Homo sapiens: one gene and its partners. The protein of the gene in region 1 interacts with the protein of each later gene in a pairwise test. Each region holds a gene or a part of one and is shown in the gene's direction. Other genes may lie near its edges. The genes, in order: PROS1, SETDB1, PRKCA and PPIA.

The links.
Region 2: the proteins of PROS1 (region 1) and SETDB1 interact in binary tests that used the Homo sapiens proteins (3 or more experiments, as listed by UniProt).
Region 3: the proteins of PROS1 (region 1) and PRKCA interact in binary tests that used the Homo sapiens proteins (3 or more experiments, as listed by UniProt).
Region 4: the proteins of PROS1 (region 1) and PPIA interact in binary tests that used the Homo sapiens proteins (3 or more experiments, as listed by UniProt).

The regions. Positions count from the first base shown.
Region 1 is NC_000003.12:93,879,627-93,887,337, reverse strand, and holds part of PROS1 (vitamin K-dependent protein S isoform 2 preproprotein), read left to right. Parts: intron 1-834; coding exon 835-1,002; intron 1,003-2,441; coding exon 2,442-2,610; intron 2,611-7,711. UniProt on the Homo sapiens protein: Anticoagulant plasma protein; it is a cofactor to activated protein C in the degradation of coagulation factors Va and VIIIa. It helps to prevent coagulation and stimulating fibrinolysis.
Region 2 is NC_000001.11:150,929,363-150,937,073, forward strand, and holds part of SETDB1 (histone-lysine N-methyltransferase SETDB1), read left to right. Parts: intron 1-604; coding exon 605-756; intron 757-7,711. UniProt on the Homo sapiens protein: Histone methyltransferase that specifically trimethylates 'Lys-9' of histone H3. H3 'Lys-9' trimethylation represents a specific tag for epigenetic transcriptional repression by recruiting HP1 (CBX1, CBX3 and/or CBX5) proteins to methylated histones.
Region 3 is NC_000017.11:66,802,229-66,809,939, forward strand, and holds part of PRKCA (protein kinase C alpha type), read left to right. Parts: intron 1-1,644; coding exon 1,645-1,809; 3' UTR 1,810-7,711. UniProt on the Homo sapiens protein: Calcium-activated, phospholipid- and diacylglycerol (DAG)-dependent serine/threonine-protein kinase that is involved in positive and negative regulation of cell proliferation, apoptosis, differentiation, migration and adhesion, tumorigenesis, cardiac hypertrophy, angiogenesis, platelet function and inflammation, by directly phosphorylating targets such as RAF1, BCL2, CSPG4, TNNT2/CTNT, or activating signaling cascade involving MAPK1/3 (ERK1/2) and RAP1GAP.
Region 4 is NC_000007.14:44,791,304-44,799,795, forward strand, and holds the start of PPIA (peptidyl-prolyl cis-trans isomerase A), read left to right. Parts: upstream 1-5,377; 5' UTR 5,378-5,421; coding exon 5,422-5,490; intron 5,491-5,815; exon of another isoform or gene 5,816-6,318; intron 6,319-7,444; exon of another isoform or gene 7,445-7,601; intron 7,602-7,943; coding exon 7,944-7,974; intron 7,975-8,088; coding exon 8,089-8,177; intron 8,178-8,398; coding exon 8,399-8,492. UniProt on the Homo sapiens protein: Catalyzes the cis-trans isomerization of proline imidic peptide bonds in oligopeptides.

The DNA.
Region 1 (7,711 bases):
TTTATGTATTTTTTTCTTATTGCCTCAATCACTTTTGAATTTTAAAGAAAAAATAATTTGTGTGCAATTAACAGAATAGTGAACATATTGATTTTTCTTACTTTATATTAAGAACTTATGGGCCGGGCGCGGTGGCTCACGCCTGTAATCCCAGCACTTTGGGAGGCCAAGGCGGGTGGATCATGAGGTCAGGAGATCGAGACCATCCTGGCTAACAAGGTGAAACCCCGTCTCTACTAAAAATACAAAAAATTAGCCGGGCGCAGTGGCGGGCGCCTGTAGTCCCAGCTACTCGGGAGGCTGAGGCAGGAGAATGGCGTGAACCCGGGAAGCGGAGCTTGCAGTGAGCCGAGATTGCGCCACTGCAGTCCGCAGTCTGGCCTGGGCGACAGAGCGAGACTCCGTCTCAAAAAAAAAAAAAAAAAAAGAACTTATTTACACTATTGATTCCATGTGCGTATTATCAGACAATTGCAAAATAAGGCCACTTAAATTTTTCCTAAGATAGAATGGCTCACTTAATTGTTAATTTTCTAGCAGCCTGGAATTGAAAGATATATAACTGGATGTTTAAGCTTAACAGAATAGTATTTTTTTTAACTTTAAAATATGGTATGCTTTTAATTTTTGATCGTGCTGCCACCCTAAATGCCTTTTTATCACATTTATCATAATTTGACATTCCAAATGAGTTGTAACAAATTAATAATTACATTAAAATGATTACTTTACAGAAGTATTTTATTGGAATAATAACATAAGTTTTAGATCCCAGTATTTCAAATGACATGTAGTAATACTTGGTTATTTGGTAATTTTTCTTTTTAATTGTAGGTGTCTGTGGAAGAATTAGAACATAGTATTAGCATTAAAATAGCTAAAGAAGCTGTGATGGATATAAATAAACCTGGACCCCTTTTTAAGCCGGAAAATGGATTGCTGGAAACCAAAGTATACTTTGCAGGATTCCCTCGGAAAGTGGAAAGTGAACTCATTAAACCGGTAATGATCCAAGCTTGTATCATTCATCATGGATGAGTTCCTTTTGTCTGTAATAGATTTGAATATGTGTGTTTCTGAGAATCAATAGAAGTTGTTTTGTTAAGCATACTAAGTGTGACAACTTGAAATGATCATGGAAAAATAACATTAGTAACCCTTGAAATTATATTAATGAAATAAAAAAATGACGTAGTGGTTTTGTGCCCATTTAAATCCCCAGCATAAATCATGAAGTGGATTTCTAAAATTCTCAAGTTAACACTTGAGAATGTTAACACTAATGTTAACATTAGTAATGTAATGTTCAGTGTTAACATCATGATAATCCATACTCAGTTGTTAAACATATAAATTCATATATTTAAGTCCAAAATTACACCATTTTGTAAAAGCCAGTCAAAGGACTTTCTCAAGTCTATTTTTAGGACTTAAATGCAAGAGCTAAAGAATAGCACATAAGGTGAAATTTATTGTTAAATATTTACTATCTTACATCCGTCTTTCATTCTCTGGAAATTCGTAGTTACTTTAACTTTTAAAAGATTTCCATTATATGATATTAAGCTTGAATTAATTAACCCATGTTGACATGAGTATACCTGTTGTTTGAAACTGAGAAATTAATACACTTTAAAAGTAAAATAAATTATTCAAAAAGTATCAATCATTTATGAAACGGTTATTACATGTCTTGAGCCTGGCAGGATACTTGATGGAGGCTAAAGAATGCAAACACTTTTGTGTCTGAAGAGACTTAGAGTCTGATTGGCAAGACAAACCCATATTATAAATGCCACTAAAGAAAAACAAGGCCAGGCGTGGTGGTTCACACCTGTAATCCCAGCAATTTGGGAGGCCGAGGCGGGTGGATCACCTGAGGTCAGGAGTTCAAGACCAGCCTGGCCAATGTAGCAAAACCCCATCTCTACTAAAAGTACAAAAATTAGCCAGGCGTGGTGGTGGGCACCTGTAATCCCAGCTACTCAGGAGGCTGAGGCAGGAGAATCGCTTGAACCAGGGAGGCAGAGGTTGCAGTGAGCCAAGATCCTGCCACTGCACTCCAGCAAGACTCCATCTCAATCAAACAAACAAAGAAGATAAACAAGACAACTTAGAGCCCAGGGCCACAGCTAGAAGCAAATATAGAACTTGAAAGCAGAAAAGTTACCACTGGATGATGTAGGAGAGGCAGGTGGGGCTTGAAGTGTTAAAAACCATTAAGATCCCACTGAGGGCTTGTGATAGTATGAGCTTGCTTGTACTGAAAAAGACTGTCCATCTGAAGAATACTTTGAAAAGAAAAACTTAAATAAAATTCAAAATATTTTCAACTATTATCAAAGAAAGGATTTTTTTTCTCTTAATGAAAACCTATACTCATAATCGAGCCACTGTTTAAGTTTAAAATGCACTCCTTGACTTGTATTTTAATTTGTTAGATTAACCCTCGTCTAGATGGATGTATACGAAGCTGGAATTTGATGAAGCAAGGAGCTTCTGGAATAAAGGAAATTATTCAAGAAAAACAAAATAAGCATTGCCTGGTTACTGTGGAGAAGGGCTCCTACTATCCTGGTTCTGGAATTGCTCAATTTCACATAGATTATAGTAAGTGATTTTCCATTTATCTCTATTTTCTCATTAATGAGTAAATTTATTCATTAACAAACAGTAATAATTTATTTGTGAAACATTATTGAGTATCTACTGTGTGCCCACTCTAGTCTTATGCTTATTCATACTATTATATACCTTTTACAAAAATTTTTCAGTGTATTGGGAAAAATATAAAGGCATTTGAATGTGCTTGTGTTGTTATTTCAGGTTTATCAGTACATAGCCTGATTCCTTATGGGTAAATTCAATTGACCTATTTTAAAGTTCACTGATTTCTCACTTGTATGGAGTCTATCAATGAATGCATCAGAAAGATTCATCTTCATTTCTAGCATTTCTATTTGATGCTTTCTTAAAATTTCTACCTCCCTGTTGAAATTCCCTATCTGTTCACACTTGTCTAGTTTATGTACTGAGTTTTCAATGTATTCATCATAATTATTTTAAATTCCCTGTCTCGTAGTTCCAACTGTGTCATATCTGAGTCTCGTCATTTTGTTTGCTTTGTCCCTTGACCAAGTGTTGTTTTTCTTGCATCTTTGTGTACCATGTAATTTTTGGTTTAGATTTGGGCATCTTACGTATAACAGTAGAGACTGAGATAAAGAATATTTGTGTCTGGAAATGAGCACATTTCTTTTGCTAGGCTCTTAGTAATGGGATTGAATCAATCTAGTGAAAAGTTGAGCTTCTTAAGTTTTGTTGGTGCCAGGATTACCCTTAATGCACCACAGGTTTCAGATCTTTTATTTTGTTTTGTTTTGTTTTTGAGATGGAGTCTCACTTTGTCACCCAGGCTGGGGTGCAGTGATGCAATCTTGGCTCACTGCAACCTCTGCCACCTGGATTCAAGTGATTCTTCTGCCTCAGCCTCCTGAGTAGCTAGAACTACAGGCGCCCGCCACCACGCCCGGCTAATTTTTGTATTTTTGTGTTTTTGGCCAGGCTGGTTTTGAACTGCTGATCTCATGATCCACCCCCTTGGCCTCCCAAAGTGCTGGGATTACAGGTGTGAGCCACCGCACCCAGCCTCAGATTTTCAAAATACTACCTTCTGCTTAGAATAAGGGAATGGTTTGGTAGCTAGTTTTTCTTTTTCTTTTCTTTCTTTTTTTCTTTTTTTTTGAGACTGAGTCTCACTCTGTCACCCAGGCTGGAGCTCAGTGCCACAATCTCGGCTCACCGCAACCTCCACCTTGCAGGTTCAAGTGATTCTCATGCCTCAGCCTCCTGAGTAGCTGGAATTACAAGGGTGCGCCACCATGCCCTGCTAATTTTTGTATTTTTGACGAGGTTTTGCCATGTTGGCCAGGCTGGTTTCAAACTCCTGACTTCAGGTGATCTGCTTGCCTTAGCCTCTCTAAGTGCTGGGATTACAGGCTTGAGCCACCGTGCCTGGCCTAGAGAGTTTTTCATCATAGCAGCTCAGTTTTATGTATTCCCTCCATAATACGCCTCAAGAAAATGTCTCTCCCACTTGTGTCTCTCAAGTGTCTTGCCCACCCCTAGCAGAGTGCTCTTGTTACCTGACATTTGCTAACATGGCAGAGAAGATGCGGAGGTTGGGGAAGCATTCTATGTTGTTGTCGTACAAATTCAGTCTTAGGCAGGTGTTGTATCCCTGGGTCTCAGGAGTGTGGAATTTTCACTGTTCCTCTTCCCTGACTCTCATCAGTAGGGGAGATGTCTAGTGATCAGGACTCAATATGTTTTCTTGCTCCTTCTGCATGATAGATAGCTTTTTTTGTTTGTTCTTCCTAATCTGTAGTTGCAATGAGTCTTCATATGTGTCCTAATGACAAGGTTTGCTGCCTTTCTCCTGGCTTGAAAACTTGTGTTGTGTAGAGGAGACCGAGAAGGATCTAGATGGGGCTTTGTGGCTTCCCTGTAGCTGGTGCTGCTTTCAGGACCATATTAAGAGAGAGGCTTTTTCGGATCTCCTTCCCTGCACTCTGTTTTCTCTTGAGTGCATGGTAAGGTCTGTGGAGAAGAGCCTGTGAATGAGCATGAATTGTCTTTGTGTCTGTAATTTCTAGGGCTTCTAAACTCTTACGTCAGCCCCTACATGGAGTTCAGCAATTTGTTTAAATCTTTACCTAAATTATTTTTACCAAATTGCATGGCATTTCCTGTCTGCCCTGGATTAGAAAGTGTTCTCATTCTGGCTTTCCTTGGAAACACCTGTCTTTCTTTAGGTTTCTGGTTAGTTTGTTGCTCTGCGACCTCAGCTCTTTGATAGTTTCAAGAAAAGTCATGATTATGCAGATAATTTGGCTTTTGTTGTTGTAAGGGTGGGAGTGGTGCCCTTTCCACTTTTCTACAGCCTAAGTGGAGCAGGGAATCTTGCCATACTGACCCTAGGTTTTTAACCTTAGAAGTAATACTTCTGTGAACATCCTAAATCATACATCCTTCTACCTTTATGTGATTAATTCTATGGAAGAAAATTTTAGAATTAGGTTATCTCTATCAAAGGTTATGCAAATATATAATTATTAGAGGTTCAATTACATTCTTTTCCAAAAATCTTTTATCAATTAATATTTCTACCAACAGAATGAGAAAGTGTATGCTTTAGTTTTTTTCCAATCTGATAGTTCAAAAATTAAATTTTGTAGGTTTGAATATTAATATTATTTCTCTAATTTCTACTGAACTTGAATATCCTCCCATATGTTTATTAGCTATTTATAAATTCTAATTATTTTATTGAATTCTTTGTCTTTTTCTTTTTTAGTAGTTCATTATTTGAGCTACTAACACTTTGCATTATAAATTGTTAACACTAATGTGATATCTCTGCTTTAAGAAAAAAATTACATTTTAATTGTGTTTATTTGTAACCTAAAAAGGGCGAGGTAAGGTGGCTCACACTTATAATCCCAGCACTTTAGGAGGCTGAGGCGGGCAGATCCCAAAGAGCTAGAGCCCAAGAGTTCAAGACCAGCCTTGGCAACATGGTGAAACCCTATCTTCACAAAAAATACAAAAATTAGCCAAGCCTGATGGCATGCACCTGTAGTCCCAGCTACTCAGGAGGCTGAGGTGTGAGGATGGCTTGAGCCCAATATGTTGACACAGCAGAGAGCCAGGATCTTATCACTGCACTCCAGCCTGGATGACAGAGTGTGAGCATGTCTCACAAAAAAAAAAAAAAAAAAAGTGCTTACTACATTAAAATACATTTTTAAATTTTTATGTAATTAGGAGGTACAAGTGCAGATTTCTTACATGCATATATTGTGATATATTGTGTAGTGGTGAAATCTGGGCTTTTGGTGTACACATCACCCAAATAGTGAACATGATACCCAATTGGTAATTTTTCAACCCCTACCCTCCTCCCACCCTCCCATCTTTCGTAGTCTATATTTACTACATTTGTTTGTTTGTTTTTGAGACAGGGTCTCTCTCTGTCATCCAGGCTGGAGTGCAGTGGTGCAATCATGGCTCACTGTAACCTAGACCTTCTGGGCTCAAGCAATCCTCCTGCCTCAGCCTCCCAAGTAGCTAGGACTACAGCCACATGCCACCATGCCTTGCTAATTTTTATGTTTTGCAGAGACAGGGTCTTCCCGTGTTGCCCAGGTCAGTTTTCAAATTCCTTAACTCAAGTGATACTCCTGCCTCAGCCTCCCAGTGCTGGTGTTACAGGCATGAGCCACTGTGCCCAGCCTTTTTTACTGTATTTTTAAGGACAAATTTTACAAAAATGATTTCCCTTTTTCTAACACAAATTGATACAATGCCTAGTTCTGTTCTGCCTATGAAAGATTTTTTTAAAGTTATAAATGGGGTGAGGATTAAATTAGGATAAAACTAAATCCATGGTGATTTGGCCAAAGGAAAAAAATCCTGAAAAGGTAATGAAAATAAGAGTTATATTGTATCTAAAAAAATTACTTTAATAAGTAATTAATCATTTCATGGATAATTTGTAAGTGATCTACTTTGTAATTAATATTTAATGTTACATTTTAACTTCTATACATTCGTGTGTTCATTTTAGTTTGAGTTTAATATTCTGTGTTAAATTTACTTATTTCAAGATAAATGTTTAGGTGATAGAAATTCCAATTACCCTGATTTGAGCATTACACATTGTATGCATTTATCAAATGACATATGTACCCCAAAATATGTGCAATTATGATATATCAATTAAAAATTACTTATTTCACAATGATTACATATAAACATTCTTTTTTTTTTGGAGACAGAGTCTCACTCTTTTTCCCAGGCTGGAGTGCAGTGGCGTGATCTCAGCTCACTGCAACCTCTGCCTCCTGAGTTCAAGCGATTCTCCTGAATCAAGCCTCCCGAGTTGTAGCTGGGACTACAGGTATACACCACCATGCTCGGCTAATTTTTTGTATTTTTTTTTCAGTAGAGATGTTTCACCATGTTGCCCAGGCTGGTCTCGAACTCCTGAGCTCAGGCAATTCCAAAGTGCTAGGATTACAGGCATGTGCCACCGTACCCGGTCTATATATTTTTTTTCTTCTGGATGGGAGTTACAGGATTATAATGAAAAACAGTGACATTATATGTGGCTAAGTGGAAGAACATCTTGTCAAAGGAAAATGATTTTCCTTATTCACATTTACCCTTTCAAGGGCTCCGTGTGGTATTTGGGCTTTGCTGTATGTTACATCATATTAAATGAGGAAGACTTCATTCAGATTATGAACTAATATTTTTAGTAATCCAACTATTCTGGAAACATATTAATTCAACAAATATCTATTGAGTGAGTGCTGGGGAAAACAAAGCAATGATAGAGATATATACCTCCTAGAGCTTGCATGTTAGTGGGATAGACAATTAACCTAGTAATTAAGAAAGAGAATGTGAAGGATTATGACAAGAGATTCACAAAACAAGGGTTCCTATTCTGATTTCAAAACTAACTGCTGATGTCAGTGTATTTCTCTAGTATCGAACTATCCAACTCTCCTATGTATATAGATCATATTTATCCTTTGGAGTGATGATGGCAACTGTACCCAGATTTTCCCTAAATTATTACAGTAAATTTGTTGAATTTTCAAACGTGTGCTTGGAAATATGACCACTCTGAGATTTGAGCATT
Region 2 (7,711 bases), on another chromosome or scaffold:
TATTTTATTTTTATTTTATTTTATTTTTTTTTTAGACAGAGACTTGCTCTGTCTCACCCAGGCTGGAGTACAGTGACGTGATCTCGGCTCACTGCAGCCTCCGCCTCCCGAGTTCAAGCAGCTCTCCTGTCTCAGCCTCCGGAGTAGCTGGGACGACAAGCGTGTGCCACCACACCCGGCTAATTTTTGTATTTTTAGTAGAGATGGAGTTTTACCATGTCGGCCAGGCTGGGGAGGTCAAATTCCTGACCTCAAGTGATCTACCTGCCTCAGCCTCCCAAATTGCTGGGATTGCAGGTGTGAGCCACCACTGCCAGCCAGGATACATTTTCAGATAACAGCAAGGTAAATAATGAGGTAAGGGTGAAAGTACTGTACTTTGGGCTTACTTTGGATTTTTGAGGAACTAGTCTGGAAACTAAACCACTATTTAAAACATTTTTCTATAGAAAAAGCATTCTAAATTCTAAACAGAGACACTTTGGAATGTGGCCCATTTAAATTGAGGACTGTCTATACTTAAATATATATACATCGTAATGGATTCTATATCTCTTAATTCCTCTACTGGCTTTGACCTTTTCTGCATGTGTTCCAATATTAGGGCAGTGACTAATTGTGAGTCTTTGGTGAAGGACTTCTACTCCAAGCTGGGACTACAATACCGGGACAGTAGCTCTGAGGACGAATCTTCCCGGCCTACAGAAATAATTGAGATTCCTGATGAAGATGATGATGTCCTCAGTATTGATTCAGGTAAGGGATGAGCTTTGGATAGGAGAGTCTCAGGACTGAAGTTGAAACACTGGAAGATGAGCAAATAGAAGATAATAGAAGAGAGGAGAAACCATTGTCACTAACTCCATATTTCTAACTGCCTGAGTTGGCTATTAAAGAAAAAAATGCAACATTGTTAGTATCATAGATGTTCCCTATGTGCTACACCCTGATTGTATTACTTTGCTTTCCTCATTCTGTGTAACCCCTATTTTGGGGTATTCCATCAAAGAGTGGAATTGCCAGGACTTATAGTGAGTGTATGTTCTGTTATTAGAATATAAAAAATACAGTTGGTTTTTGTGTATTGATCTTGTAGCCCGCAACCGCATTAAACTCACATAGTTCTAGAAGCTTTTTGTTGATTCCTTAGGATTTTCTTTTTTTTTTTTTTTTTTTTTTTTTTTGAGATGGAGTCTCGCTCTGTTGCCCAGGCTGGAGTGCAGTGGCGCAATCTCAGCTCACTGCAACCTCTGCCTCCTGGGTTCAAGCAATTCTCTGCTTCGACCTCCCAACTAGCTGGGATTACAGGCAAACCCCCTGCCCCACCACCACACCCAGCTAATTTTTGTATTTTTAGTAGAGACAGGGTTTCATCATCTTGGCCAGGCTGGTCTTGAACTCCTGACCTTGTGATCCACTTGCCTTGGCCTCCCAAAGTGCTGGGATTACAGGCATGAGCTGCTGCACCCAGCCAATTCCTTAGGTTTTTCTAAAACTAATTCATGCAAGTAAAGTCTGTTTTACTTCTTCCTTTCTACCCTGGATATCTTTCTTTTTCTTTTCTTATTGTACTCACTAAAACCTTCAGTACAGTGTTGAATAAGTTTTAAGAGCAGGCCAGATACAGTGGCTCATACCTGTAATCCCAGCACTTTGGGAGGTTGAGGTGGGAGGATCCCCTGATCCCAGGAATTTGAGACCAGCCTGGCCAACGTAGCAAGACCTCATCTCTACTAAAAATAAAAAAATTAGCCAGGCATGGTGGTGCACCCCAGTAATCCCAGCTACTTGGGAGGCTGAGGTGGAAGGATCTCTTAAGCATAGGAAGTTGAGGCTGCAGTGAGCTGTGATTGTGCCACTGCACTCCAGCCTGGGTGACAAAGCAAGACTCTTGTCTTCAAAAAAAAAAAAAAAAAAAAGGGTTTCCAGAACAGACATCCTGGCCAGGCGTGGTGGCTCACGCCTGTAATCCCAGCACTTTGGGAGGCCAAGGAGGGCGGATCATGAGGTCAGGAGATCCAGACCATCCTGGCTAACACGGTGAAACCCCATCTCTACTAAAAATACAAAAAATTAGCTGGGCGTGGCGGCGGACGCCTGTAGTCCCAGCTACTTGGGAGGCTGAGGCAGGAGAATGGCGTGAACCCAGGAGGTGGAGCTTGCAGTGAACAGAAACCACACTACTACATGTATACATATGTAACTAACCTGCACAATGTGCACATGTACCCTAAAACTTAAAGTATAATAAAAAAAAATTAAAAAATAAAAAATAAAAAAAATAAAGATAAACCAAAAAAAAAAAAAAAGAAACCACACTACTGCACTCCAGCCTGGGCGACAGAGTGAGACTCTGTCTCACCCAAAAAAAAAAAAAAAAAAAACAGACATCCTTTTCTTCTTCCTGATGTTGATATGAAAGCATTTGGTGTTTAACCATTAATTATGTTAGCAGTAGGTTTTCTATAGATGTCATTTATTAAATTAAAGGAATCCCCTTCTAATCCTAGTTTGAGAGATTTTATCATAGCCTAATTGGATTTTGGATTTTGTCAGCTTTTTCTGTATCATTCTCCTATGTTCCTTTTGTCTTTTATCATATTAAGAATGTATTACAGTAGTTGTTTTTTTAGATGTTAAACCAACCTTGCATTCCTGGAGTAAACCAGCCTTGGTCTTGATGTATAATTCTTTTTATATGTTGCTGGATTGGATTTGCTGATTTAAAAAAAAAAGATCTTGGCTGGATGCTGTGACTCATGCCTGAAATCCCAGCACCTTGGGAGGCCGAGTTGGGCAGATTGCTTGAGCCCAGGAGTTCAAGACTAGCCTGGGCAACATGGTGAAACCCCTTCTCTAATTTTTTTTTTTTTAAAAAAAAAGAAAGAAAAAAATTTTTACATCTGTTTCATGAGGGCTATTGGTTTATAGTTCTGTTGTGGTGTCCTTGTTTGGCTTTGGTAGCAGGGTAATATAGGCCTTGTAAATGAGTTGAGAAGTGTTCCCTCCTCTGAGTTTGTATGGAATGATATTTCTTCCTAAAAAGTTTGATAAATTCAGTGCTGAGGCCATTTAGGCTTGGACTTTTCTTTGTGGATTTTTAAAATCTTTTATTTTGGAATAATTTTAGATTTATAGAAAAATTGAAAAAGTAATAGAGTTCCTATATATCCCTCATCTAGTACATATGTCAAAACTAAGAAGCAAACACTGGTATATTACTTTTATATAAACTTCAGGCTTTATTCAGCTTCTGGACTTTTTCTGTTCCATGATCTAATCCAGGATATCACATTAAATATATTTCCAGTGTGATGTTTATTTTCTTCCTTTTACTTACTGGGTTTGATTTGTTCTTCTTTTTCTAGCCTCTCAAAGTGGAAGCTTACAGGATTGATTTTAGACCTTTCTTCCTTTCTAATATAAGCTCTAAAGCTATTTATTTCCCCGTAAGCATTGCTTTGCTGCATCTCATAAATTTTTTTCCATACAGTGTCACTCTCAGGATATCATACTTTTTTTATGTTGTGTTTTCAGCTTCATTAAACTTGGCATCATTTTTAATTTTCCTTGTGGTTGTTTGATTTCTAAATATTTGGGGTTTTTTTGATATCTTTCTGTTGTTAATTTTTAATTAATTTTATTGTGTTCAGAGAATATACTTTGTATAATTTTAGTCTTTTTGAATGAATGAATGAATGAATGAATTGATTGATTGACAAGGTCTCACTCTGTTCCCCAGGCTGGAGTGTGATAGCATGATCATAGTTCACTGCAGCCTCAACCTCCTGGGCTCAAGTGATCCTCCCACGTCAGCCTCCTGAGTAGCTGGAACTAAAAGTACATGCCGCCACGCCCAGCTAACTTTTTTTTTTGTAGTAGAGATAAGGTCTCACTATGTTGCCCAGGCTGGTCTCGAACTCCTGAGCTCAGGCAATCCTCCTGCCTTGGCCTCCCAAGGTGCTGGGATTATAGGCCTTAGCTACCATGCCTGGCCTATTTTGTCTTTTTTTTTTTTTTTTTGAGACAGTCTTGCTCCATTGCCCTGGCTGAAGTGCAGTGGCATGATCTCACTGCAACTTCTGCTCACTGCAACCTTTGCCTCCTGGGTTCAAGCAATTCTCCTGTCTCAGCTTCCTGAGTAGCTGGGACCACAGGCACGCGCCATCACACCCAGCTAATTTTTGTACTTTTAGTAGAGACAGGATTTCTCTGTGTTGGCCAGTCTTGTCTTAAACTTCTGACCTTAGGTGATCTGTCCACCTAAGCCTCTCAAAGTGCTAGAATTACAGGCGTGAGCCACTGTGCCTAGCCCTATTTCTTCTTTGTTGCCTTCTTAAAGTCAAACAAACATTTCAGAAAACCACTGTCATTCTTCTGATTTTTCTTTTTCTTTTTCTTTTTCTTTTTCTTTTTCTTTTTTTTTTTTTTTTTTTTGAGATGGAGTTTTCGCTCTTGTTGTCTAGGCTGGAGTGCAATGGCAGGATCTCTGCTCACTGCAACCTCCGCCTCTTGGGTTCAAGCGATTCTCCTGCCTCAGCCTCCTAAGTAGCTGGGATTACAGGCATGCACCACCATGCCTGGCTAATTTTGTATTTTTAGTAGAGACAGGGTTTCTCCATGTTGGTCAGATTGATCTCAAGCTCCCAACCTCAGGTGATCCACCTGCTTCGGCTTCCCAAAGTGCTAGGATTACAGGAGTGAGCCACCACACCCGGCCCCTGATTTTTCTTTTTTTTAGCTTTCATAAAAGGGGTTGCATCTGTACCTAATCATAATCTATTACAAATTAATACTGACTTAATTCTGGTAAAAATACAGCCATTTTGGCTGGGCGCGGTGGCTGACGCCTGTAATCCCAGCACTTTGGGAGGCCGAGACGGGCAGATCACGAGGTCAGGAGATCGAAACCATCCCGGCTAACACGGTGAAACCCCGTCTCTACTAAAAATACAAAAAAATTAGCTGGGCGTAGTGGCGGGCACCTGTAGTCCCAGCTACTTGGGAGGCTGAGGCAGGAGAATGGCGTGAACCTGGGAGGCGGAGCTTGCAGTGAGCCAAGATCGCACCGCTGCACTCCAGCCTGGGCGACAGAGCGAGACTCCATCTCAAAAAATATATATATATACACAGCCACTTTGCACCAGCATACTTCTACTTTCACTCTCTTCCTGTGTGATACTATTGTCAAATATATTATAGCTACATGTTTAAAGCCAATAATCTAGTGTTATAATTACTGCTTTAAGCAGTCTCATGTTTAAAGAAGGTAAGGGAAGAAAAGAAAAATATGTATTTACCCAGATATTTATCACTTCTGTTGCTCTTCATTCCTTCCTGTGGATCTGAGTTATCATCCAGTGTCATGTTTTTCCAGCCAGACGGTTTCCTTTAATATTTCTTGCAGTACAGTTCTGCTGACAGTGGATTCCCTCAATCTTCGTTTACCCAGGATATAGAATTTTTTTTTTTTTTTGTGACAGAGCTTTATTCTTGTTGCCCAGGCTGGAGTGCAGTGGTGAGATCTCAGCTCACTGCATCCTCCACCTTCCAGGTTCAAGCAATTCTCCTGCCTCAGCCTCCCAAGTAGTTGGGACTACAGGTGTGCACCACCACGCCCGGCTAATTTTGTCTTTTTAGTAGAGACAGGGTTTCGTCATGTAGTTCAGGCTGGTCTCAAACTCCTGGCCTCAGGTGATCCACACGCCTTGGCCTCCCAAAGTACTGGGATTACAGGCGTGAGCCACTGTGCCCGGCCCTACCTGGGATATAGAATTCTTGATTGACAGAGTTTTCTTTCAGTACTTCAAATACGCCATCCCTGTGCCCTCTGGCCTCTATTATTTTTGATGGAAAGTCAGAGGAAATTATTTTTGTATCATGTATATGAGTCAGTTTTGTCTTGCTGGTTTTAAGGTTTTCTTTTTGTCTTCTGGTGTTAGTTTGACTGGGATGTATCCAAGTTCTTTCTTAATCCTACTTGAGGTCCATTTAACTTCTTGGGTATGTAGATTCAAGTTTTTCACCAAATTTGGAAGTATTTCATCTGTTATTTCTTCATGGTTTTTTTTTTCTGTTCCCTTTTGTCTCTCCCTGCTTTCTGGGATTTCCATTACATATATGGTGGAATGCTTGACATTCATCTTTTCACAAGTCTCTGAAGCTTTGTTCATTTTTCTTCAATTTTCTCTCTGTGCTTTGGATTGGATAATTTCTCTATATGGGTATCTATATATTCTAGTTCATTGACTCCTGTTGTGACTCTGCCACTTAGCCCCTCTAATATGTATTTCATTTCAGTTTTTGCATTTTCAACTCTGGAATTTCTATTTGGTTCCTTATTTCATAGTTTCAGTTTCTCTTGAGATTCTCTTGTTGATTAAGTATTAGTATATTTTCATTTAACCTTTTAACTTAATTTCCTATCGTTCTTTGAGCATATTTATAAATCCAGTATCTGGGATCACTGAGAGTCAGTTTTATTGACAGGGTTTTTTGTCTTGAGTGTAGGTCACACTTTCATGTTTCTTTGCATGTCTCTTATCTTTTTGTTGAATATTGACTTTTAGATAATCTAGCAACTCTGAGTTTTAATTTATTTTCCTGAGAGTTCCATATCCTAGTTATTCTTTTCTTTTTTTTGAGACGGAGTCTCGCTCTGTCGCCCAGGCTGGAGTGCAATGGCGCAATCTCGGCTCACTGCAAGCTCCACTTCCCGGTTTCACACCATTCTCCTGCCTCAGCCTCCCGAGTAGCTGGGACTACAGGTGCCCGCCACCATGCCTGGCTAATTTTTTTCTATTTTTTTAGTAGAGACAGGGTTTCACCATGTTAGCCAGGATGGTCTCGATCTCCTGACCTCGTAATCTGCCCGTCTCGGCCTCCCAAAGTGCTGGGATTACAGGCGTGAGCCACCCTGTAGGCCTCTGTTCAGTTTTTTTATTTTAACTTTTAATTTTTTAGCTTGGCTTCCAAGTATTGACTTTTTTATTTCTATTTTTTGGAATAGTTTAGCTAGTGAGGCGAATGCATTCAGAGTTACATTTAGTTCTGACGTCTCCCTTGGCTTTGACTTCTTCAACATTGTGTTGATGCATGATGATTAGCTTATTTGCTTTTTGCAGCATGGTATTCCATTGTATGAATATGCCACAGTTTATCAGTTTTCCTGATTGTGGACATTGATTTACATTTTTTGAGATTACAGATAACACTACTGCAAATATTCTTGTACATGTCTCCTGATGCACATGTGCAGGAGTCTTTTTAGTGTATATACTGTAAGAGAGTCACTAGTTCTTAGGATATAGAAACCTCAACTTTATTTGATATATATTTTTTTAGACAGTATCTCACTCTGTAACCCAGGCTGGAGCACAGTAGTGCTATCATAGCTCACTTCGACTTCAGCCTCCCAAGTAGCTGAGACTACAGGCAAGTGCCACCACGCCTGCCTGATTTAAAAAAAAAAAAATTTGTAGGTTGCTCACAGTGGCTCACACCTGTAATCTCAGCACTTTGGGAGGCCGAGGCGGGTGGATCGCCTGAGGTCAGGAGTTCGAGACCAGCCTGGCCAGTATGGCGAAATCCCATCTCTACTAAAAATACAAAAATTAGCTGGGTATGGTGGTGGGTGCCTGTAATCCCAGCTACTGGGGAGGCAGCGGCACAAGAATTGCTTGAACCCGGGAGGCGGAGGTTGCTGTGAGCC
Region 3 (7,711 bases), on another chromosome or scaffold:
AAAAAAATTAATAAGCCCAGAAAGGAAAGCTGTTTGTCATAAAGACCTTACTTTGAATTTATGACATGCTTTCCACCTCAACAGGTACTTAGGAGCAGGTTTTATTTGATGAAAAGTAGGTGGGAAAAGGGTAATGAAAGTAGCTTCGTCGCTGGGCGTGGTGGCTCATGCCTGTAATCCCAGCTACTCGGGAGGCTGAGGCAGGAGAATCACTTGAACCCAGGAGGCAGAGGTTACAGTGAGCCGAGGTCACGCCACTGCACTCTAGTCTGGGCGACAGAGCAAGACTCCATCTCAAAAAAAAAAACGAAAGTAGGTTCTCAAGCACACCTCCTAGAAGATAAAGTGTGAAAAAAGAGCTGAGAAAGCACAGCCCGTGAGACTCAACTGCCTTATAAAAACACTAGCAGCACGTGCTGGCCTCTCGCCTCGGCTGGGTTCTGTGCAAAACCCCATACATTTCACCTTCCTGACAGCCTTGGGCAGGAGGTGTGATTGTTCTCCCAGTGTTACAGATGAGCAAACTTGGTGGACCCCACTTCACAGTTAATCCAGAGCTATTCTCTGTTAGAGACCCAAGGATGCCTGGTTAGTTTGAAATGTGTGCTAGCTCAGAGTTAATTCATATTGGCCCTGTGGTGCTAGCAGCAGGTCCAAGGGCAGTAATTGGCAGCATCTTGAAAATCATTCTTAGGATCCTTAGTGAAACTCCCAGCTCTTCCTGCTTCAGAGTCACCCTGGGCTCCCGGGGACTTCAACACGCCACTACCCTTGTGGGTGGCTGACAAGGTGAAGAGAACACTCCTTCCCCACTTTTGGGGTCAGGCTACCAAGCCGTGCTGCCTAAGCGGCTGTGTGTCTCAGCGACCCCAGTGCAACAGTTCTGCCTGGAGTGGACCCTGGAGGAGAGGAACAGCCGAGACAGCAGGCCTCTCCCTGCCTCCCCAGGGCGCCATGCAAACATCCTCCAGCCTGAGACCACCCTGCAAATAAGCTCCAGTCAGTCACCCAGCCTGCCCGCTGGCCAGCTCTGTCTAGGTGTGCTAAATCCTAGCTGGGCCAGGTGCAAATCTCCCAGCCTTGCCGCCACACCTACCTCATATCGCTTGAAGCTTAATTTAGGGGCTGGGGTTGCTGGAGCAGCCCAGTAGGAAGGCAAGGATAACACAGTTTTTACTTCACTACAAATATTGCGGCAAAAAAACAGATGTGGGGCAGTAACTCACCCCGTCGCTTGGTCCAGGGGTAACTGCCTGCAGCCCCAGCCGACATCCTGGCCTTTCAACACGGAGCTGTGACTGACGGCCCTGCGTGCGTGGCTTCCGTGCTCTCAGCTCCGCTTGCTCGGTGAGGTGGACGTGAGGGGACAGGGGCTGTCCCCTTGTTGCTGCCTCATTGCCAGCCGTGCAATTCCCACCCAGGGCTTCTGTTCGGGGTGTTTCAGGGTTTACAGTTGGGTAACTCGTTGTTGTCTGCTGTGCCTGGCTTTTCAATCCAATAGGCCTGCAAGTCCTCCGAGATTCCTCCTCCTAACCAGCCCGGAGTTCCCCAGGGCCGTGCCCCTCCCCAGAGAGGGCCCTCGGAGAGCTGCTCCCGCATTGTCATGTTGACTGACCTTTCCTTCTTTTTGTCTTTTCTCCACAGTGTGGCAAAGGAGCAGAGAACTTTGACAAGTTCTTCACACGAGGACAGCCCGTCTTAACACCACCTGATCAGCTGGTTATTGCTAACATAGACCAGTCTGATTTTGAAGGGTTCTCGTATGTCAACCCCCAGTTTGTGCACCCCATCTTACAGAGTGCAGTATGAAACTCACCAGCGAGAACAAACACCTCCCCAGCCCCCAGCCCTCCCCGCAGTGGGAAGTGAATCCTTAACCCTAAAATTTTAAGGCCACGGCCTTGTGTCTGATTCCATATGGAGGCCTGAAAATTGTAGGGTTATTAGTCCAAATGTGATCAACTGTTCAGGGTCTCTCTCTTACAACCAAGAACATTATCTTAGTGGAAGATGGTACGTCATGCTCAGTGTCCAGTTTAATTCTGTAGAAGTTACGTCTGGCTCTAGGTTAACCCTTCCTAGAAAGCAAGCAGACTGTTGCCCCATTTTGGGTACAATTTGATATACTTTCCATACCCTCCATCTGTGGATTTTTCAGCATTGGAATCCCCCAACCAGAGATGTTAAAGTGAGCCTGTCCCAGGAAACATCTCCACCCAAGACGTCTTTGGAATCCAAGAACAGGAAGCCAAGAGAGTGAGCAGGGAGGGATTGGGGGTGGGGGAGGCCTCAAAATACCGACTGCGTCCATTCTCTGCCTCCATGGAAACAGCCCCTAGAATCTGAAAGGCCGGGATAAACCTAATCACTGTTCCCAAACATTGACAAATCCTAACCCAACCATGGTCCAGCAGTTACCAGTTTAAACAAAAAAACCTCAGATGAGTGTTGGGTGAATCTGTCATCTGGTACCCTCCTTGGTTGATAACTGTCTTGATACTTTTCATTCTTTGTAAGAGGCCAAATCGTCTAAGGACGTTGCTGAACAAGCGTGTGAAATCATTTCAGATCAAGGATAAGCCAGTGTGTACATATGTTCATTTTAATCTCTGGGAGATTATTTTTCCATCCAGGGTGCCATCAGTAATCATGCCACTACTCACCAGTGTTGTTCACCAACACCCACCCCCACACACACCAACATTTTGCTGCCTACCTTGTTATCCTTCTCAAGAAGCTGAAGTGTACGCCCTCTCCCCTTTTGTGCTTATTTATTTAATAGGCTGCAGTGTCGCTTATGAAAGTACGATGTACAGTAACTTAATGGAAGTGCTGACTCTAGCATCAGCCTCTACCGATTGATTTTCCTCCCTTCTCTAGCCCTGGATGTCCACTTAGGGATAAAAAGAATATGGTTTTGGTTCCCATTTCTAGTTCACGTTGAATGACAGGCCTGGAGCTGTAGAATCAGGAAACCCGGATGCCTAACAGCTCAAAGATGTTTTGTTAATAGAAGGATTTTAATACGTTTTGCAAATGCATCATGCAATGAATTTTGCATGTTTATAATAAACCTTAATAACAAGTGAATCTATATTATTGATATAATCGTATCAAGTATAAAGAGAGTATTATAATAATTTTATAAGACACAATTGTGCTCTATTTGTGCAGGTTCTTGTTTCTAATCCTCTTTTCTAATTAAGTTTTAGCTGAATCCCTTGCTTCTGTGCTTTCCCTCCCTGCACATGGGCACTGTATCAGATAGATTACTTTTTAAATGTAGATAAAATTTCAAAAATGAATGGCTAGTTTACGTGATAGATTAGGCTCTTACTACATATGTGTGTGTATATATATGTATTTGATTCTACCTGCAAACAAATTTTTATTGGTGAGGACTATTTTTGAGCTGACACTCCCTCTTAGTTTCTTCATGTCACCTTTCGTCCTGGTTCCTCCGCCACTCTTCCTCTTGGGGACAACAGGAAGTGTCTGATTCCAGTCTGCCTAGTACGTTGGTACACACGTGGCATTGCCGCAGCACCTGGGCTGACCTTTGTGTGTGCGTGTGTGTGTGTTTCCTTCTTCCCTTCAGCCTGTGACTGTTGCTGACTCCAGGGGTGGGAGGGATGGGGAGACTCCCCTCTTGCTGTGTGTACTGGACACGCAGGAAGCATGCTGTCTTGCTGCCTCTGCAACGACCTGTCGTTTGCTCCAGCATGCACAAACTTCGTGAGACCAACACAGCCGTGCCCTGCAGGCACCAGCACGTGCTTTTCAGAGGCTGCGGACTTTCTTCCAGCCATTGTGGCATTGGCCTTTCCAGTCTTGGGAGGAGCGCGCTGCTTTGGTGAGACACCCCCATGCAAGGTCCTCAGAGTAGCCGGGTTCTACCACAAACAGAAACAGAATGAAAGTAGCTGTCAGTCCTTGTAGAGAGCCGCTCTGTTTCCTCCCAGAAGCATCTCCCAGCTAAGCTCGCATTATTTTTCTCCTCTGGCTGTTTGCCTGAAGTTCACAGAACACACAACCATGAAAGGCTTTTTGAGGTGAGAGGCCCAGGTGGTCCTGGCAACCCTGAGTAGAAGGAGAGACGGGGTAGGGAACGGGCCCGGCCAGAAAAGAACCATTTCTTCTGCCATCTTTTATGCACCATAGACATCGAGACTCCAGGGGGTCCTGGCTCCCCTGTCCCTGCAGCCCTGCAGGTCAGTGCATGATCTGGGTTCGTGTCCTGACCAGGTGCTCCTCCTTTGATCCGAGGGGAAAGGGACTGGTTTATAGAAAGAGCCTAGGAGACAAAAGGGCCAGTCCCCCTGCCCAGAATGGAGCAGCAGCAGGACAGACCCCCACGAGGCCCCCCAGAGAGGAGGAAGATCCCACGGAGGAACACATGAGGTTAGGGACCCTTGTTCAGCACCCCAAACAGCCTGCCTGTTTAAAGCAGGCAGCAGGCTTAGGCCTTCCCTGCAACCCCAACACCCACAAGTTTGTTTCTCTAGGAAACACATTCACTGTCTCAGCTGGCTGTTACTCTCTCAGACCATATGGCAAAGTTTTCCAAGAAAATGCCCCGACAGGGGTGCCCAGCACACTGCCTGAGGGACAACAGACATCAGAACAAACCCCCAGAGAGAAACAGTCAAAATCAGGGCCCGGTGCAGTGTTGTCATGTGGAACCTGCTTTATCCATTGCTGAGTGTTGAATGTGGGTAATGGTTAGGGCTTTCCAGATCTCAGCAGCCAAAGACAGTTATTGTTGGAAGACTGTCATGTAGATAACCATGAGCAATGGCTCGCCTCAGAATCAGTTCATAAAATTCTATGGTACTGGCCCCTTCGTGGGTATTGTGTGAAATGAGATGGTGGCGAGGGGTGCGCTGTGGAACTGCCGCAGCCACGCAGGAGGTCCCTGGGGGATGCTTTGGGAAGTCCTTGCCCCTGAGCACTGCCTGATTGCCAGGGCCTGTGGAGGTCTAGGCCGCCTGGCAGAATCTAGCACCGTCCGAATCCCCGCAGGACCCATGGAGCTATGACCACACCAGGCCATTCAAATGGCTCTGCATTATCTTCCCTTGGAAGGTGGCCACTCCTCGGTGGCAGGGCCTTTCCCTGAGGCTGCAGGCCGTGGGCTGGCAGCCCGTCTCTTGGCATTTCAATTGAAGGTCACCAGGTGCTGGGTTTGAAAGGAAGTCACTGGAGTGCTGCCAGGGGCCGCCCTCCAAGGTTAATGAGAGGCCCACATCCAGGCAAGAACTAATTCAAAAGGCAGATCAGAAACCACAGGAGTCAAAATTATTGCTCCGGCAGTGCTTCCCTTCCTTTCATCCACTGGCCTCGTGTGGTCCATGCAGGGCCACTGTCTGCCCTTTCTGATGCCACGTATTAGGCTTTCTTACTCAGAATTTTGATAGAAAACCATGGGGCCAAGAGCTCTGGAAGCCTGGCCGGAAAGACCAAGGTTCATGCAGCCCAACAAATGATTGTTGAGCACCTCTCGGAGCCAAAGTCCTTAGGCGAGTGTGGTGACTTCCTGGAAGGAGGATGCAGACTTCCAGAGAGCCCCCCCAACGGACGTGCTGAGAAGGGAGAGGGAGGCGGGGGCTGTAGTCAGGAAGGAGCCAGAGAAGAACAGGGTTTGGGTGCATCCAGAAATATGCCTGCAGTAGGAGGGAGAGGAAGGGGTGCCACCGTCAACGGCTTCCCATCGGAGGTGGTTGGTGCAGATGGAAGTTTCTGTCTGCTGGCCCTCAAGAGAGTGTTTTGCCAGGGACACAGTCTGTTCCTCCTCAGAAAACACCCCCCAAATGCTAACAACATCCCCACCAGCTGCTAGAAGCCCCTTTCCCCTCCCCACCTTGAAGTAGCTCATAGTTCTCTGGGCAGAGCCAGACCATCCAGTGTACCCCAGAGGCCAGTAGGTTCCTGCCCATTTTCCTCTCTGGCTTCCTGCCAAGAATTATGGCAGCTGAGGATGAATGGAGAAGTAAAAACAACTAACACCGCACAACTAACAACTAACACCGCAGTTCCCACCTGGGTTCCACTTAGCAGGAGACATTTCGGAGGGTTTTTTTTGTTTTTGTTCCTGTTTTTTTTTTTTTTGCTGGAATTTGTTTTCTCAGTACTGAAAAGAGAAAAAGTGACAATCTTGTATTTTTAAAAGCCTCGGAAAGGTGATACCATCTGACAGTCATTTTCTCACGTTGGTCTTCTAAAGTCACCTATTTCTTGTGTGTGCACATCACACCATTTCCTGTTTCTTTATAACCCGACAAGGGTAGGAGTGCCTGTTTCCCCTGCTGGGCACACCAGACAATCGTAATCACAAAACAGACACTGAGCCAGGGGCCCAAAGGGTGTGATCATGAGAGTTACCGGGACAGCAGTAGGCATGACAGTCACCAGGAAGGACAAGGGTGCTCTGTTGTTAGTGGCCACACACCAATTTGACAAGGAGTGTTGCGAAATTTTTATTTATTTATTTATTTATTTTGAGATGGAGTTTCACTCTTGTTGCCCAGGCTGGAGTGCGGTGGTACAATCTCGGCTCACTGCAACCTCCACCTCCCAGGTTCAAGCGATTCTCCTGCCTCAGCCTCCCAAGTACCTGGGACTACAGGTGCGTGCCACCACACCCAGCTAAATTTTGTGTTTTTAGTAGAGATGGGGTTTCACCATGTTGGCCAGGATGGTCTTGAACCCCTGACCTCATGATCTGCCTGCCTCGGCCTCCCAAAGTGCTGGGATTACAGGCATGAGCCACCACGCCCAGCCAAAATATTTTTTTAAAGTCATTTTCCTTAAGCTGCTTGGGCTACATGTGAAATACACTGGACGGTCAACATTCCTGTCTCCTCCCATTTGGGCTGATGCAGCAGATCCAGGGAATGTTACCTGTTTCTGCTGCTAGAAGATCCAGGAAATTGGGAAGGTTACCTGACGCACACATGGATGAAGGCCATCATCTAGAAATGGGGTCAACCACAATTGTGTTAATTCCGTAGTGTCAGGGATTCTTCGGGAAGGTCAACAGTATGAAGGATTCTGACCCCTGTGCCTCCCATTTATGTGATCAGGTGACAGTTAATAACCGTGGAGGTCACACTCAGCCATCCAACAGCCTTACAGTGACCCTACACAAAAGCCCCCAAATTCCAAAGACTTTTTCTTAACCTAAAGGAAGAAATTATTTGTTAATTCCAGTAGAGCAACTGAATATACTGGGCTATTTGTACTTTTTTATAGAGAACTTTAATAATAATTCTTTAAAAATGAGTTTTTAGAACAAAGCAACTGACGATTTCCTAAGATTCCAATGCCCTGGAGCTTGTAGGAGGACTTAGCCTGGGTCAGCTGGAGCACCCCCGACCTGATCTCCCACTGCCAGATTTTCCCATGCTCCTAGGGTATGGAGTCCACGTGGGAATGACTGCAAGTTCAGGTGGAACTTGGCCGACTGATGCTCTGCGAGTTTTTAATAGACACTGGGGACAACTGCTTAAGGTTTAGAAACTTCCAAACCACAGGAAAGACATTTTTAGTGTCCCCCATCCAGAGGCAGCCCTGGAATAGGATTCCCAGGGGTTTCTGGGACCCCTTTCCTTGCTCCGTGAGGCTCTGTGGCCATCTTTTGGCAGGAGGAGGATGCTTCCTTGGCTCTGTGCCCAGACCCGCCTGGTCCCCAGGTCTCTCACCTTGGGTGAAG
Region 4 (8,492 bases), on another chromosome or scaffold:
TCTGACAGAGGAGAAATTTGTGAAAAAGCTAAAGGGGAAATGGTAAAGGAAACATGAGAGAAAAGTCAAAGCCATCAAGGAAAGGAAGCTTTCCAATCAAGGAGGTGATGAAACCTGTCTGATGCAGGCAGTGTCAGACCTGCAAAAAGCACCTGGGTTTGTGGGCTGAGAGGTCACTGATGGTCTCAGCAGAAGCGGTTTCCATTCAGCCTGGAGAGCAGAGGCACCAAGCTAGGCCTTGGGCAAGAGGCACAGAGAAGACAAGTTACTACCCAAAGTCGTCTGTTTTCATAATTTTGAATACCCTAATTTTTTCCCTGGTTACCTTCTCTCTTGCTCAGGCACATTTTTGAGATAAGCATTTGTTTATAAGATGCTATATGATCAGGAGCTACAGTTGAGTTTCAGAGTTCTGCTTGCTGGCATGGAACACCTCCATCTAGCCAGAACAGGGCACTGTTGAGTTCAGCTGGATTTGCTTTTGGTCTGATTCATCCAAATAAGGCATGGACAGCTCCACATTCCTGAGGTTCTGTGTCTGCTGATATTTTCCACAGTTAGACAGTCCCACTCAACAGATAATGTCAGAAAAGGAACCCCCAGAATATCAGCTCCCCACTTAACAAACAAAACATGAACATTTGTATTCTTGAGTGTACATACCCCATGCCTGTGTAGATGAAATGACAAGAACTAGGACTTTGCTGTGACAATGCTGACGGTGACAAAAAGGCAGGACTTCAAATAGTAGCGAGAGGGAGGACAAGTCACAAGGATGTATTCATTTATTTGTTTTGAGACGAAGTCTCAGTCTGTCACCCACGCTGGAGTGCAGTGGCTCGATCTTGGCTCACTACAACCTCCACCTCCCAGGTTCAAGCGATTCCCCTGCCTTAGCCTCCTGAGCAGCTGGGACTACAGGAGCCCACCACCATACCAGGCTAATATTTGTATTTTTAGTAGAGACGGGGTTTCGCCATGTTGGCCAGGCTGGTCTTGAACTCCTGACCTCAAGTGATCCACCTGCCTCGGCCTCCCAAAGTTCTGGGATTACAGGTATGAGCCACTGTACCCAGCCGGATGTATTTATTTTTATTTTTATTTTTATTTTTGAGACAGGGTCTTGCTCTGTTACCCAGGCTGGAGTGTAGTGGCACCATCATGGCTCACTGCAGCCTCAACCTCCTGGGCTCAAGTGATCCTCCCATCTCAGCCTCCCGAGTAGCTGGGACTATAGGTATGCACCACCGTGCTTGGCTAATTTTTATTTTTAAAAATGTTTTGACCGGGCACAGTGGTTCATGCCTGTAATCCCAGCACTTTGGGAGGCTGAGGCAGGCGGATCACCTGAGGTCAGGAGTTCGAGACCAGCCTGACCAACATGATGAATCCCATCTCTACTAAAAATATAAAATTAGCTGGGCATGGTGGTGCATGCCTGTAATCCCAGCTACTTGGGAGGCTGAGGCAGGAGAATTGCTTGAAGCCAGGACGTGGAGGTTGCAGTGAGCCAAGATCACGCCATTCATTGACCTCCAGCCTGGGCTTCAAGAGTAAAACTCACTCTGTCTCAAAAAATAAATAAATAAATAAATAAATAAATAAATAAAAATAAAATAGGCCGGGCATGGTGGCTCACACCTGTAATCCCAGCACTTTGGGAGGCCGAAGTGGGTGGATCACCTGAGGTTGGGAGCTTAAGACCAGCCTGACCAACACGAGAAACCCCATCTCTACTAAAAATACAAAATTAGCCGGGAGTGATGGCGCATGCCTGTAATCCCAGCTACTTGTAAGGCTGAGGCAGGAGAATTGCTTGAACCCAGGAGGCGGAGGTTGCAGTGAGCCGAGATCAAGCCATTGCACTCCGTCAAGAGCGAAACTCTGTCTCAAACAAATAAAAATAAAAAATAAAAGAAAATACATATTTTTTTGTAGAAGCAGGGTTTCCCTCTGTTGCCCAGGCTGGTGTTGAACTCCTGGGCTCAACCGATCCTCCTGCCTTGGCCTCCCAAAGCACTGGCATTACAGGCGTGAGCCACCACGCCCAGCCTATTTATTATTCATTCATGCATTCATTTACTTTTTTTTTTTTGAGATGGAATCTCACCCCATCCCCCAGACTGGAGTGCAGTGGTGTGATCTCAGCTCACTGCAACCTCCGTCTCCCAAGCTTAAGTGATTCTCCTGCCTCAGCTTCCTGAGTAGCTGGGATTACAGATGCGCACCACCATGCCCGGCTAACTTTTGTATTTTTAGTAGAGACGGGGTTTCACCATATTTGTCAGGCTGGTCTTGAACTCCTGACCTCATGATCCACTCACCTCAGTCTCCCAAAGTGCTGGGATTACAGGCGTGAGCCACTGTGCCCAGCCCTAATTTTTGTACTTTTTAGTAGAGATGGGTTTTCCCTGTGTTGGCCAGGCTAGTCTTGAACTCCTGGCCTCAAGTGACCCACTTACCTCGGCCTCCCGAAGTGCTGCAATTACAGTGTGAGCCACCATGCCCAGCCCTGCCCAGTTAATTTTTGTATTTTTAGTAGAGATAGGGTTTCACTATGTTGTCCAAGCTGGTCTTGAACTCCTGACCTCAAATTATCCACCCGCCTCTGCCTCCCAAAGTGCTAGGATTACAGGCATGAGCCACCTCACCCGGCCTCATTCATTTACTTCTTTGGAGGAGTTCCTAACTGCTCTACGTTTTAGGATGGAGAGAGAAATGGTAAGAATTTATGCCTGAAGGCCTTGGGCATTTTTTTTCAGTGTCAGATGAGGACAAGTGGCTTTCTTAAGATCACAAAGCAAGAAGTGATGTGGAGTGGGGGGGAAAAAAGCAGTTTCCAGTTTGGCTTTGCTAACACTCATAAGCGATTACTCTGAACAAGAAGCCAGAGCTTTACTTTACGCATCTGTAAAATGGGGATAATGGGATGGTGATGAGAACAAAACAACATAGTCTAAATTTCCAACACAGGCTGAGCATGGCGGTTCACCTGTAATGCTAGAACTTTGGGAGGCCAAGGTGGGAGAATCCTTTAAGCCCTGGAGTTTGAGACCAGCCCTGATAACACAGCCAGAACCAGTTTCTGTTAAAAAAATTTAAATTAGCTGGCACAGTGGCTTGTGCCTTTAGTCCCAGACATTTGGGAGGTTGAGGAGGGAGGAATGCTTCAGTCCAAGAGTTCGAGGTTACAGTGAGCTAGGATTGCACCACTGCACTCCAGACTAACCAACAGAGTGAGACCCTATCTCAAATAAATAAATTCCTAACACGTTGGCTCATGGTTATTAACAATGGCAAGAGGCCAGAAACTGTACTTCATCTATCAGATGAATTATCATTTTTGTCTCACCACAACCCTATCCTGGTTGTGCAGATGAAGAAACTGAGTTTTAGAAACATTAAACAACGTCCAGGTGCAGCAGCTCACGCCTATAATCCCAGCACTTTTGGGAGGCTGAGGCGGGTGGATCGCTTGAGTCCAGGAGTTTGAGACCAGCCTGGGCGATGTGGCGAAACCCCATCTTTACAAAACACACACACACAAAATGAGCTGGGTGTGGGTGCATGCCTGTAGTCCCAGCTACTTGGGAGGCTAAGGTGGGACGCTTGCTCGAGCACGGGAAGGGGAGGTTGCAGTGAGCCGATAACACACCACTGCACTTCCAGCCTAGGTGAGAGTGAGACCTTGTCTCAAAAAAACAAAAAGAAACATTAAATAATATCCTTAATATTGCAACTTAAGTGACAGCCCAGGATATATGAATTCCCTTGTAAGGTTTTCTTAACAAAACACCAGTCACATAAGTGCATTTTATTTTATATTTTTGTTTATTTATTTGAGACGGAGTCTCTGTCTCTCAGGCTGGAGTGCAGTGGCGCCATCTCTGCTCGCTGCAACCTCCACCTCCTGGGTTCCAGCGATTCTCCTGCCTCAGCCTCCCGAGGGGGTAGCTGGGACTACAGGTGCGCACCACCATGCCCAGCTAATTTTGTATTTTTCGTAGAGATGGGGTTTCACCATGTTGTCCAGGCTGGTCTTGAACTCCTGACCTCAGGTGATCCTCCCGCCTCGGCCTCCCAAAGTGCTGGAATTACAGGCGTGATCCACCGCACCCGGCCTATTTTTTGAGAGAGGGTCACACTCTGTCGTCCCGGCTGGAATGCAGTGATGCGATCACCGCCCACTACAGCCTCGACCTCCGGGCTCAAGCAATCCTCCCCGCCCAGCCTCCTGAGTAGCGAGCGCCTCGACGCCCAGCTAATTTTTATTTTTATTTATTTTTTTGTAGAGACGGCGTCTCTCTAAGATGCCCAGGCTGGTGGCCGGTGTCGAACTCCTAAGATGAAGCGATCCTCCCCGGCCTTGGCCTCCGCGCCTCCTAAAGCGCCAGGTATGAGCCACCGCGCCTGGCCTACAAGTGCATTTTAATTAAAGTATTATTAATGTCTTTGCCTGAAGAAATTCGCTTTTAAATTGTGACTTATCTTTCACCCAAAAATCAAAGCACAATTCAGCCCCGAGGCGGGGGCGGTAGGAGCTGGGCGGGGCGGGGGCAGGGAAAGACCAGGAGCAGAGATTCAAAAAGAGTAAGAGGGCAAAATGTGCATAATGCATCTTCACAGGTAAGAGCCTGGCCAGGCTCCTGTTTTAATGGCTTCCTCCTGAAGAAGATTCAAGCAGAGTGTAAGATATTTTCGGAAAGTAGAGCATTTTGAAAGCATTTCATAATCTCTCAAAACCGGAGACTGCTCCTGTCCCACCTCGTTAGAGAAAACAGCGATGCTCAAAGGCAACCTCCTTCCTGACATTGCCTGGTAGGACGCGACGTGGTGTTTGCCCGCGCGGAATGCGGACGCAAGGCTGCTCCTAGGTCTCGGGGACGCGCCATCCCCATTTCCGCTCGCGGAGGCGTAGGGTCCGGGCGCGGGACCCCAGTCGACCTTGACTGGCGGCGCGACCTTGAGGCCTGCGTTCGCCTCAGTTGCCCCCTCTGTGCAATGGGGAGACGCGCCTCATCGCTTGACAACGGCCGAAGAGCCGCCGCGCTTCCGTCTCCCGCGTGCGCGCGCCATGCTGCCCACCCCCGTTCCGCACTGACCCTCCCCCGTGCCCCGCGTCCCGTACTGCCGCCCCGCCCCGAGTCCCATGCCGCAGCCACCGCGACGGAGCCCGCAGGCGGGAACCTGCCTCCGCGCGTTAGCGCGCACGCGCGCCTCATGTGTCGTCCCCATCAGCGCCGGCTTCCGTCTATAGGCCAGATGCACTGTCACTCTGGCGAAGTCGCAGACCCGATTGGCCGGGACGGAGGCGCGAGACCGGGTTGCGGGCGGGGCCGAACGTGGTATAAAAGGGGCGGGAGGCCAGGCTCGTGCCGTTTTGCAGACGCCACCGCCGAGGAAAACCGTGTACTATTAGCCATGGTCAACCCCACCGTGTTCTTCGACATTGCCGTCGACGGCGAGCCCTTGGGCCGCGTCTCCTTTGAGGTCGGGCGGGCGGCGGCGTGCGGGAATGGGGCCCAGAAAGTGGGCCGGGGTCGGGGTGGGTGGTAGCGCCCCAAAGGCCCGGGCGCGGGGCGACCCTGCTTGAGGGGCGAGCGCGGGCGGGCTGCGGCGCCATTTCCTGACGAGGGGCCATTTTGGGAGGTCCGCGAGTCGCGGGGAGGAGGCCGGGACGGCGGCGGACAAAGGCAGGCGGGGCGGCTGCGAGGCCGTTGGGGGAGGGGGCCCGCGTCCGCCCGCCCGCCTCATGTGGCCGCGCCCTGTCCTGTCCGACGCACGTGCTCGGCGGCCGCGCTCAGGTCCGCGCCTTGAGAGTCGTTGGGCTCCGCCCTAGCTTGGCCTGGGCGCCGCAGACCGGAGCCAGAAGCACGCTCGCGGGGGCTTGCGACCGCCTTCCTGGGAAGCTGTCCCCTGGCAGGCATGGGTGCTTTACATCCTGAGCTGGGAAGCTGTTTGCTTGAGGGTTTTTCTCAAGGATCGAGGCGCGGTGTGAGCCCGTCCATGCTCGGTCCTGTAGATCCCGGGAGGCCATGTTATAAAAGGAGACTTGCTGGGATGTGACGGGTTGCCACTTGAAATATCTTCCATTTGGATAAAGTAGGAATATTTATACATGTGCCCCAAACGTCCCTCCGTGTCCCCCACCCCCAAGCGGAAATGTGAAAATGGGCCTTGCCTTTGCTGGTGCCCAAGGACCGCCTTCCACTGCAGTGACGGCGCTGGCGGGGGAGGCGCTCTTGAGCCCCTCCCGATTGTCCCTCTGCCTAGCAAGCAAGTTGCGACTGGCCACAAGGCAGGCCTCTTCCGACCAAGGTGGATTACCAGTGATTACCTAATTAGTTTTGAGAGCGTTAAATGAGTTCTTAAAGATCAGTTGTAATTATAGCATAGTATCTAAACTTGGCGCGTGTCTTCAAAGTTAAATATTGAGTACGATTCCGTTCCAGTTAACATGGATAGACCTTAGGGAGTAGCGAAATAGGATGTTAGTGGTTTTATTCCTTTAAATCACATCTCAAAAGGCCACCAATGGCTAGTTTGGGATCTTATTCCGAAAATAGATTGATCCTCATGCAGTCTTCGTGAGGACAGAGCGATTTCCTTGTTGCCTACCCTGTCCATAGTGCCTGGCACATAGGCACTGAAACACTGCATGTTAATCCACACCCCACCCCACCTATGAGTGTAGTCAAAGCTGGTAAGTGACAAGGGCTTTCGTGGAAACTTGGCCTGACCTAATGTTGGGCATCAGGTTACCCAAAGAGCTTCAGGGAAATGAGAAAGGACTTGCAGGTCTTGATGAGAATGGAGGGGTAACTGCCAATGAGGGCTTTGGCTTTAGCGAAAGTCTGAAAGGGAAGCCATAGGAACTTAAACGTACCGACTATAAAGCTCTGAGAAAAGCTGATGTTTTAGAAAGACCATACATTCTAGGTACAAATACCTAAAAACTAAAAAATAAGTACGTTGGCCAGGCGGGCGGATCACGAAGTCAGGAGATTGAGACCGTCCTGGCCAACATGGTGAAACCCCACCTCTATTAAAAATACAAAAATTAGCTGGGCGTGGTGGCGCTTGCCTGTAATCTCAGCTACTCTAGAGGCTGAGGCAGGAGAATCGCTTGAACCCCGGAGGCGGAGGCTGCAGTGAGCCGAGATCGTGCCACTGCACTCCAGCCTGGTGACAGTGAGACTCTTGTCTCAAAAAAAAAAAAGTACATTGCTATAAGAGAAGTGCACACGGATACTAGTAGTTAATTCAGTCACATCTGTGAAATAGCTTATAAAATGCTACTTTTAAACAAGCTGTTTTTATGAAAGGGCTTGTAAATGTTTATGGTATTTAAGCTACCTCTCTAGCCATAACGTATTATACATTCAAGAAAGGTTCAAAACCAGATATACTAGAAACCAATCTTTATTTTTTACCCCACTACTAGGTAAGGGGCCTGGATACCAAGAAGTGACTGCTCATCTAATCCATAAAGCTATGTTAACAGATTGGAGGTAGTAGCATTTTCATTACAAGTGACTAAAAGAACAGCTGTTTACCCCTGATCGTGCAGCAGTGCTTGCTGTTCCTTAGAATTTTGCCTTGTAAGTTCTAGCTCAAGTTGGGGGGTGGTGATAGACATTTAAGAAGCCATATATCTTTTCAGAAGTAGGTGTGATGTACTAAAAGTTTGAGACACTTTCTAGAAGTCTCACTATTTAAGTTATGACTAGTATTGGATTTTTGGCATGTCTTTGGGTTTCATGTTTCTTAACCCAACTGCCTGCAGGGCCTTATGGCTGTCAGGAGCAGTTCTTGGGAATTAAAGTAATTACTGAAGAAGTATTCTAGTGAGAAAATGAATTTATGACTCAGAAGCCCCTAAAGACATGGGTACTAAGCAACAAAATAAGCAGATGTTAATTAACTGTAATTTTCTCTTACAGCTGTTTGCAGACAAGGTCCCAAAGACAGCAGGTTGGTCCATTTTCTAAGTTTAACAAAGATGTTCCAATTGTGACAGTTTGTGTGTGTGTGTGTATATATATATTTTTATGTATGTATATATGTGTTTAATTTTTTTTTAAACAGAAAATTTTCGTGCTCTGAGCACTGGAGAGAAAGGATTTGGTTATAAGGGTTCCTGCTTTCACAGAATTATTCCAGGGTTTATGTGTCAGGTACGAAATTTACTGAATTTTATTTTATTTGGGTTGCTCCCTTCATTTGGGATTGAGCCAGAATATTTCAGGATACACATATCTGAACTGTTACTCTACCATTTCGGTTCTATTTAACCCTTCTATTCAGTTTGAACTTGGGTTTAAAGTTTGAACCTTGCAGATTTGGCACACTTCATGGTTATGTTGTCAGAAGTGACATTTTTCCTATATGTTGACAGGGTGGTGACTTCACACGCCATAATGGCACTGGTGGCAAGTCCATCTATGGGGAGAAATTTGAAGATGAGAACTTCATCCTAAAGCATACGGGTC